2 linked regions of the Homo sapiens genome follow. The protein of the gene in region 1 interacts with the protein of each later gene in a biochemical or structural test. Each region holds a gene or a part of one and is shown on either strand. Other genes may lie near its edges.

The links. Proteins that work in one complex are often made in the same cells at the same time.
Region 2: of the proteins of ALK (region 1) and PTPRJ, one has a biochemical effect on the other in vitro, tested with the Homo sapiens proteins (one large-scale study listed by IntAct).

The regions. Positions count from the first base shown.
Region 1 is NC_000002.12:29,915,037-29,918,693, forward strand, and holds part of ALK (ALK tyrosine kinase receptor isoform 1 precursor), read right to left. Parts: intron 1-3,657. UniProt on the Homo sapiens protein: Neuronal receptor tyrosine kinase that is essentially and transiently expressed in specific regions of the central and peripheral nervous systems and plays an important role in the genesis and differentiation of the nervous system.
Region 2 is NC_000011.10:48,165,402-48,168,448, reverse strand, and holds part of PTPRJ (receptor-type tyrosine-protein phosphatase eta isoform 1 precursor), read right to left. Parts: intron 1,246-3,047; coding exon 1,087-1,245; 3' UTR 1-1,086. UniProt on the Homo sapiens protein: Tyrosine phosphatase which dephosphorylates or contributes to the dephosphorylation of CTNND1, FLT3, PDGFRB, MET, KDR, LYN, SRC, MAPK1, MAPK3, EGFR, TJP1, OCLN, PIK3R1 and PIK3R2. Plays a role in cell adhesion, migration, proliferation and differentiation.

The DNA.
Region 1 (3,657 bases):
TTCCAAATAACCATAACAGGACACTAATAATGATTATAAAGAAAGGCAAAATTTCCTTTACAGGTCAGACTGGAAAAATTTCCATGTTGTGAGGTTGCCAGGCAGTGATCCTGAGTGGCAGGGCACTGAGACTTCTGCTGATCAACTCTCATTCTTTTCTTCTCCCACCTTCAGGCCAGTTCCTCCTGATTTTCAGCAGACCAACTTCCTTATAGATATTCCTTTCTCACTCTGTTGCCCAGGCTGAAGTGAGGTGGCACAATCTCAGCTCACTGAAACCTCCAACTCCCAGGTTCAAGCAACTCTCCTGAGTAGCTGGAACTAAGGCGCATGCCACAATGCCTGGCTAATTTTTTTATTTTTAGTAGAGACAGGGTTTCACCATGTTGGCCAGGCTGATCTCGAACTCCTGACCTCAAGTGATCTGCCCTCCTCGGCCTCCCAAAATGCTGGGATTACAGGCATGAGCCACTGCGGCCAGCCTAGATACCCATTTTTATTAATAATCACACTCTCCTCCCATGCCTTACACAAAAACCCCTCATGGACCTTCTTTCTCTTTTAAAAATTTTTGAAATGTTAAATTGGATGTGGATGAACTTCATCTTTCAAATGGCAATATAGATTCTCAACATTTAAAGGGATTTTTAAGTAGCCAGTAGGAGTCCACCAAATCTAGAACTGATGGCATCTTCTCAAGACACAGGTCACCTTTTGCCCTGCTCAGTGATGCTTTGTCATATACCCTCACCCATAGATGTATCTTAGATACACAATTCTCTGGTGATTGTGCCTCCCAAACCCCTGGATATACAGATCGCACCCCAGAGAAATAATCTATGTTTAATTGGAGGGCAGGGAAGAATAAATTCAGTAATTTCAAAATATTTGTCATTAACAATTTCTTAAGTGCTTCTCACCAACTTCAAAGATGTATATGCAATTCTTTTCTTTTCCTCTAAAAACACCAATGCCCAAAGGCTCCAGGGTTTGGATCATAAAAAGGTTCTGATTCCTTCTGCCATTCTGCATCCCAGCTCTCTGTCCTGTTGTAGCTTCTCAATATGTGAAAATATAGAACTGATTAATTAGGAATGCTGGGACTTGTCTGACCCACATCTCACCTGACTCCCCACTCCATTGGAATTCCATTCCATAGTCAGAGGAATATCAATGTCAGAAAACAAGGTTTCCCTGATATCCAACCCGAAGTTTGCTTCTACAAGTATGATCCAATTACTTCCATGGGCCACGCTAAATAACTCCTCTCCTTCACTGCCACTCTCTCTCTTCAGAGATTTGTAGATTGTTACCATGGCTTTCCCTTCATCGCCATTTAGCCCAGCCATATATATTTAATTCTTTTCATCTTTCATTGTAAATCAGTCCCTTCAACTGTTAAATCAGCTCTCTGCTCTTCTCTGGACTAGTTCCAATTCTCCCAATTCACCTCCAATAACTGATATCCCTTCTGGGAGCTCCAATTTCCTCTCCATCCTCCTTTGCTCTCTCTGCCCACTCCAGAAATGAAATGGGAAGGGACTGACAGATATGGGAGTTCAAAGGTCAGATATATTGCATTGCATACATCTCTAAATTGCTCAGGCCTCTCCATAGTACATGTAAAATCCAAAGTCATGTATCCACTTTCCTGGGTGGGGAGGGAGTGCTTACAGGGAAATAGGCCTCCTATCCCATGAGTCATCATCCCCTAGCCCTCTGCCTGGGTGACAGCAGAAACAGATCTCAAAACACCTGTAAGCCAGGATACAAACTGGAGCTGTGGGCAACATGCCAGCCTTGCAGACAGACATCTTTTCTATGATTTGGGCTGTCCTGGGAGAGGCCAGAACCATTAATACAGTCCCAGAAACTGCCTCTTCACCTCTTCTCCATGAATGGGTGAATTTGGGATCTGCCTCAGACTTGAAATGCCGATCCTATTTCTGAATTCACAGTAACCCACAAGGAAAAACCATTAGCATTTCATGCATTATAAGGCCTCTCAGACATCTTTCTGTCCTCTCAGACAGCCCAAATCACAAGCAATGCAACGGTTTTGCTTTCTCCTAACTGGTGCTTTTTCATTTTTACTATTTTAGTCATGGTCCTGCTCAGGTTTAGGAAGCTATCTTTGGTCTGAGCCAAATGGGCTGCTCCAGGCCCCTCACCACAAAACATGGAAGAACAATCAGCTCTTCCCTCCCCCACAAATAGCCCCATCAGCATCATTGTGTACCTCCAGACAAGACACTTGGGCAGACACAGGAAGAAAATAAGCTGAGCTGTGCCTACTTTCCTTCTGTATAATTGAAGAGCCCACATCATAGAAGAGTTAAATGCCTTTTCTATAAATCAGAGCCTATATAAAAATAATAAACCCATTTCTCCAAACATGATAAATAGCAAAATCAATCCCAGTGTCAGAACCTAACCTTGAATTTTCATAGGGAAAATGAACGGAACCATAATGATACATGTTGTCTGAAACACAGAACATGGTATAGCAAGGTGTATCTACTCCATGGGGATGTCTGCAATGGAGACTGTATCTGAATGAGGCTGGGGAGGCAATGATAATGTGAGAGAGGCTAGTCCTGCATGGCCAGCTGCCTAACTGCAGACAGCATATGTCCTCAGAGAAAGGAGAGACCAGGCTGTTCCAAGTATGATCACCACAAGGCCCGAAGTGCTTTTCAATAGGCTGGCTGTCTCTCTGGAGGTCATGGGGAGCTCATCCAGTTACACTTAGTGTCTTATTTGATCCTATCAATAATCATTTGATTCCAATCCTGCTGAAAAATGCTTGGCCAAATTTTCTTGCCTTTTAATGGCAGAATCCTGGCTCCTACTGAAATCAGCATTGCTAGATGTGTCAAATGATGCATAAGGGCTTGGTCCAGCTGCCAAATGTACTGGGCCACTGAGGGAGGGCTTGGGATGCCCACAATGCTTCCCTACAGCCAATAGCAGAGAAGCCCTTGGAGCACAGCCTTTCTACATAAACCTCCCCACTCAGCAGCTCCAACACCTTATTTAAGACTTGAGTGGAGTATATTCTTTAAATGAATTAAGCATGTGACTCTTCAGAGACACCCACTGATAGCTTCATGCAACCTACCTGTTTACAGTTGGCAGGTTCGGGGCTGTAGAAATGAGCCCTTTTGCCTGTCACCAACATCTGACAACAGCTGATACAGACTGCTGGATTCTATGGTCATTTGATAAAAGGTGATGGGGAAGCTCCACAGATGCTCAGAGGCATGAAACTAGAAGATAATCTGCATTTCCAGAGAAGTCATTTTTATATCCATTACTAAAACACTGGGCACTAAAACAGAATGTTGCATGTATAAACCACACAAACCACAATGACATTAAAGCCCAGCTGTTCTTTACAAAAACATCTTGGGTGGAACAACAGTATCAGTCTTCCATCTCAGTTCACTGAAGGCACTATCAAACTCATCAGTGCCTCTTAGGATGGTCTATATAAATTCCAGCACTAAATGAAAAGGGCTCACTTTAGGTGCCAGTGTCACTAACACTAATGTTGAAATGTGCATCCGCACTCTGTTTTTCTTGGGGGTCACATACTAGTATGTATTCTGTGCAATGACTAGGGAACCTCAGCTTCTGAATATCCCTCCTGCATGA
Region 2 (3,047 bases), on another chromosome or scaffold:
CACGCTGAAGTGTTCACAGATTGCCACGCTTCTGAACATACACACACACATACAGACACAGACACATAAAATGCCAACCTGAGTAAAACGTTACTAAAAACCTAGAACATCATGAATCACTAATTCACATATTGCACCTTTAAATAATCCTTCATACCAAATACAGACATGAGAAAAAGGATAATACAGGGACAAGAAAAGGATTTCTGCCACTGTAGGATTCCTCTGCTTCTCCCATTCCCACCCACAGAAATTCTCAAGGTGATATTTGAGTCGCCATTCTCACCCAACCAATGGGTTGAAAATGTTGCCAACAGAAGAGTCTTTGGAGAAAACTGGGAGGGAAAAGGGAAGAAAAAATGGAGCACAAATGTACAGGGGGCAGGGGAAGCGGAGTCGGGGCAAAGAGGCCTCCCCTGATCAAATGAGAACAGAAATGTTACTGAGGAAGCAAACCTCTGATGCTAAGCTACTGTTTAAATATTCCGTATATTCCAATTATGAGATTCAGTACAAAAATATAGATCTCTACTGAGTTTTGCCTGTGGAAGCATAATTCAGAAAAGGCACATGTTCAAATAGAAAACCCATTCGGAAGAGGTGCCACGTACCCCTCCCTGCGCAATCATCATCCACAATTAGGTATTTTCCATCGGCTAGATTCCAAGACACAGTAGGTAAAAATAGACCTCTGATACTTAAAATATATTCAACCCAACACAATCCTGGCTTTAGCATGTGAATCATATAAAATAGTCTTTTTTAAAAAAGAAATTGTTTTGGAAAAAAAAATCATAGCTCCCTTTTCCTGGTTTTCCACAATCCTCAAGGGGGAAAAAAAAAAAAAGTGACCTCATCCCATTGGTCATCAGGAATGCAGATGATTTGCTCCCCACCCATCCACAGCCCCCGACAGCCCCAATTTGTCATCTATCATATGCAGCTTCATGCCCTCAAAATTAGTTCTCACAAAACAGAACAAAGAATTAAGATATTAGACATATAAAAACATGTCGACATCGGGGCATGTGCCTTCGCTGTGGGTGCGACGGTCTGGTTCACTCCAGAAAGGTTATTCCTTTGGAATTAGGCGATGTAACCATTGGTCTTTCCAAATGTGGTCACGGGCGCAAGGTTTTCATAGATTGTCATTGCAGTTGTGTTCTGGTAGATAAGATCTACTTTTGAGTCTTTCTGGGATCTGACAATATCCAAAACACACTGATTGAGGAAAACATACTGGTCCTGATAGAAAAACGAAAGAGAGAGACAGAAAATGAACATGGGTCCCAGAAATTAGCACCCAAAATTATTTTCAAACAGGTCATTCCCCCGCCCAACTCCCAAACCCCATCCACCCAACAGCAAACGGTTCAAGCGAACATGTTTCAAGAGGTAACAACATTGCAGTGAAATCTGAAATCACAGAAGCAAGATGTCCTTCCTCAATGATTCTCAACCAGAAGAGCACACTCCACACCTCCCCTCCCCAAGGAAAAATGCCACAGTCTCAGGGAAGGGCAAAGGAAGGAGGAAATGTAGAGGAAAAAATGCACACACACATTCGAACAATCAAATGTCCAACAAGATTGCCTTGGCTAGTGAGACTGTACAGAGTAAGAATCAACTGTAATGCTCAACCGAGGAGCGAGGTTAAAAGGAGATGATCAGGTGGAGCTGGATGAGGACTATCCTTCAGGTAGGTATATCAGAATCTGTGGATAGTGATGAAGAAAAGAGGAAACAAGGGTATAAGCTGACACAGAAAAATATCCATGATATTATAAGAGGAGAAAAAAAATCACAGAGAAGCAACATACATAAAACAGGATCTGGCCAGGCGCGGTGGCTCCTGTCTGTAATCCCAGCACTTTGGGGAGGCCAAGACAGGTAGATCGGCTCAGGTTAGGAGTGCGAGATCAGCCTGGCCAACATGGTGAAACCCCGTCTCTACTAAAAATACAAAAATTTGCTGGGCGTGGTGGCACACACCTGTAATCCCAGCTACTCAGGAGGCTGAGGCAGGAGAATCGCTGGAACCCAGGAGGTTGAGGTTTCAGTGAGCTGAGATGGCACCACTGCACTCCAGCCTGGGCAACAGAGCAAGACTCCATCTCAAAAAAAAAACAGCATCCAATTTTTTCAAAGTACTGTGTGTGCGTGTGTGTGTGTGTGTGTTTACAGATGTACATAAAGAGTCTTATAAAGATGTACACCAAACTATAAACATTGGCTACCTCCAGGAAGCAGGATTGGGGAAGGAAGAGTAAGAGAAAAATATATTGAGGCCAGGCACGGTGGCTCACACCTGTAATCCCAGCAATTTGGGAGGCCGAGGCGGGCGGATCATGAGGTCAGGAGATCGAGACCATCCTGGCCAACATGGTGAAACCCCATCTCTACTAAAATACAAAAAAAAAATTAGCTGGGCATGGTGGCACACGCCTGTAGTCCCAGCTACTTGGGAGGCTGAGGCAGGGGAATCGCTTGAACCCAGGAGGCAGAGGTTGCAGTGAGCCGAGATCGCACCACTGCAATCCAGCCCGGTGACAGAGCAAGTCTCCGTCTCAAAAAAAAAAAAAAGAGGAGAGAAAAATATATTGTCAAATGCTTTCATATGAATAAGTATTGTTTTCAAAATATAAAAAAGAGATTAGACTCTAGTAGCAGGGATAAGAGTTCTATGTTTCTCAAAAAAGGATAAAAGATTGAGAAATACTACTTTATATAATTATAGCAGAAAAAAGAAAATCTCTCTTTTGACCAACACAGGAGTTGAATTTCACTCTTTCCACAACAACCACCAAGCTCACCCCAGAGCACGCAATGTACCCAGGCATCTAGAACATTCCCTGCTAGACTCAAAAACACAGCACATATTCATAGAGTTCTAAATCGGTACAGGACGATAGCCTGATACAAAATTAATATTCTGCTCTCATCCTGGTCAAGGAACATTCACCCCTTTGAGGAAAGCAACTTTGCAATATGTTCTGTTGAAAACATGCCTCAAAAACACTTCTCAGTAACAGTTTGGGTAAAACCAA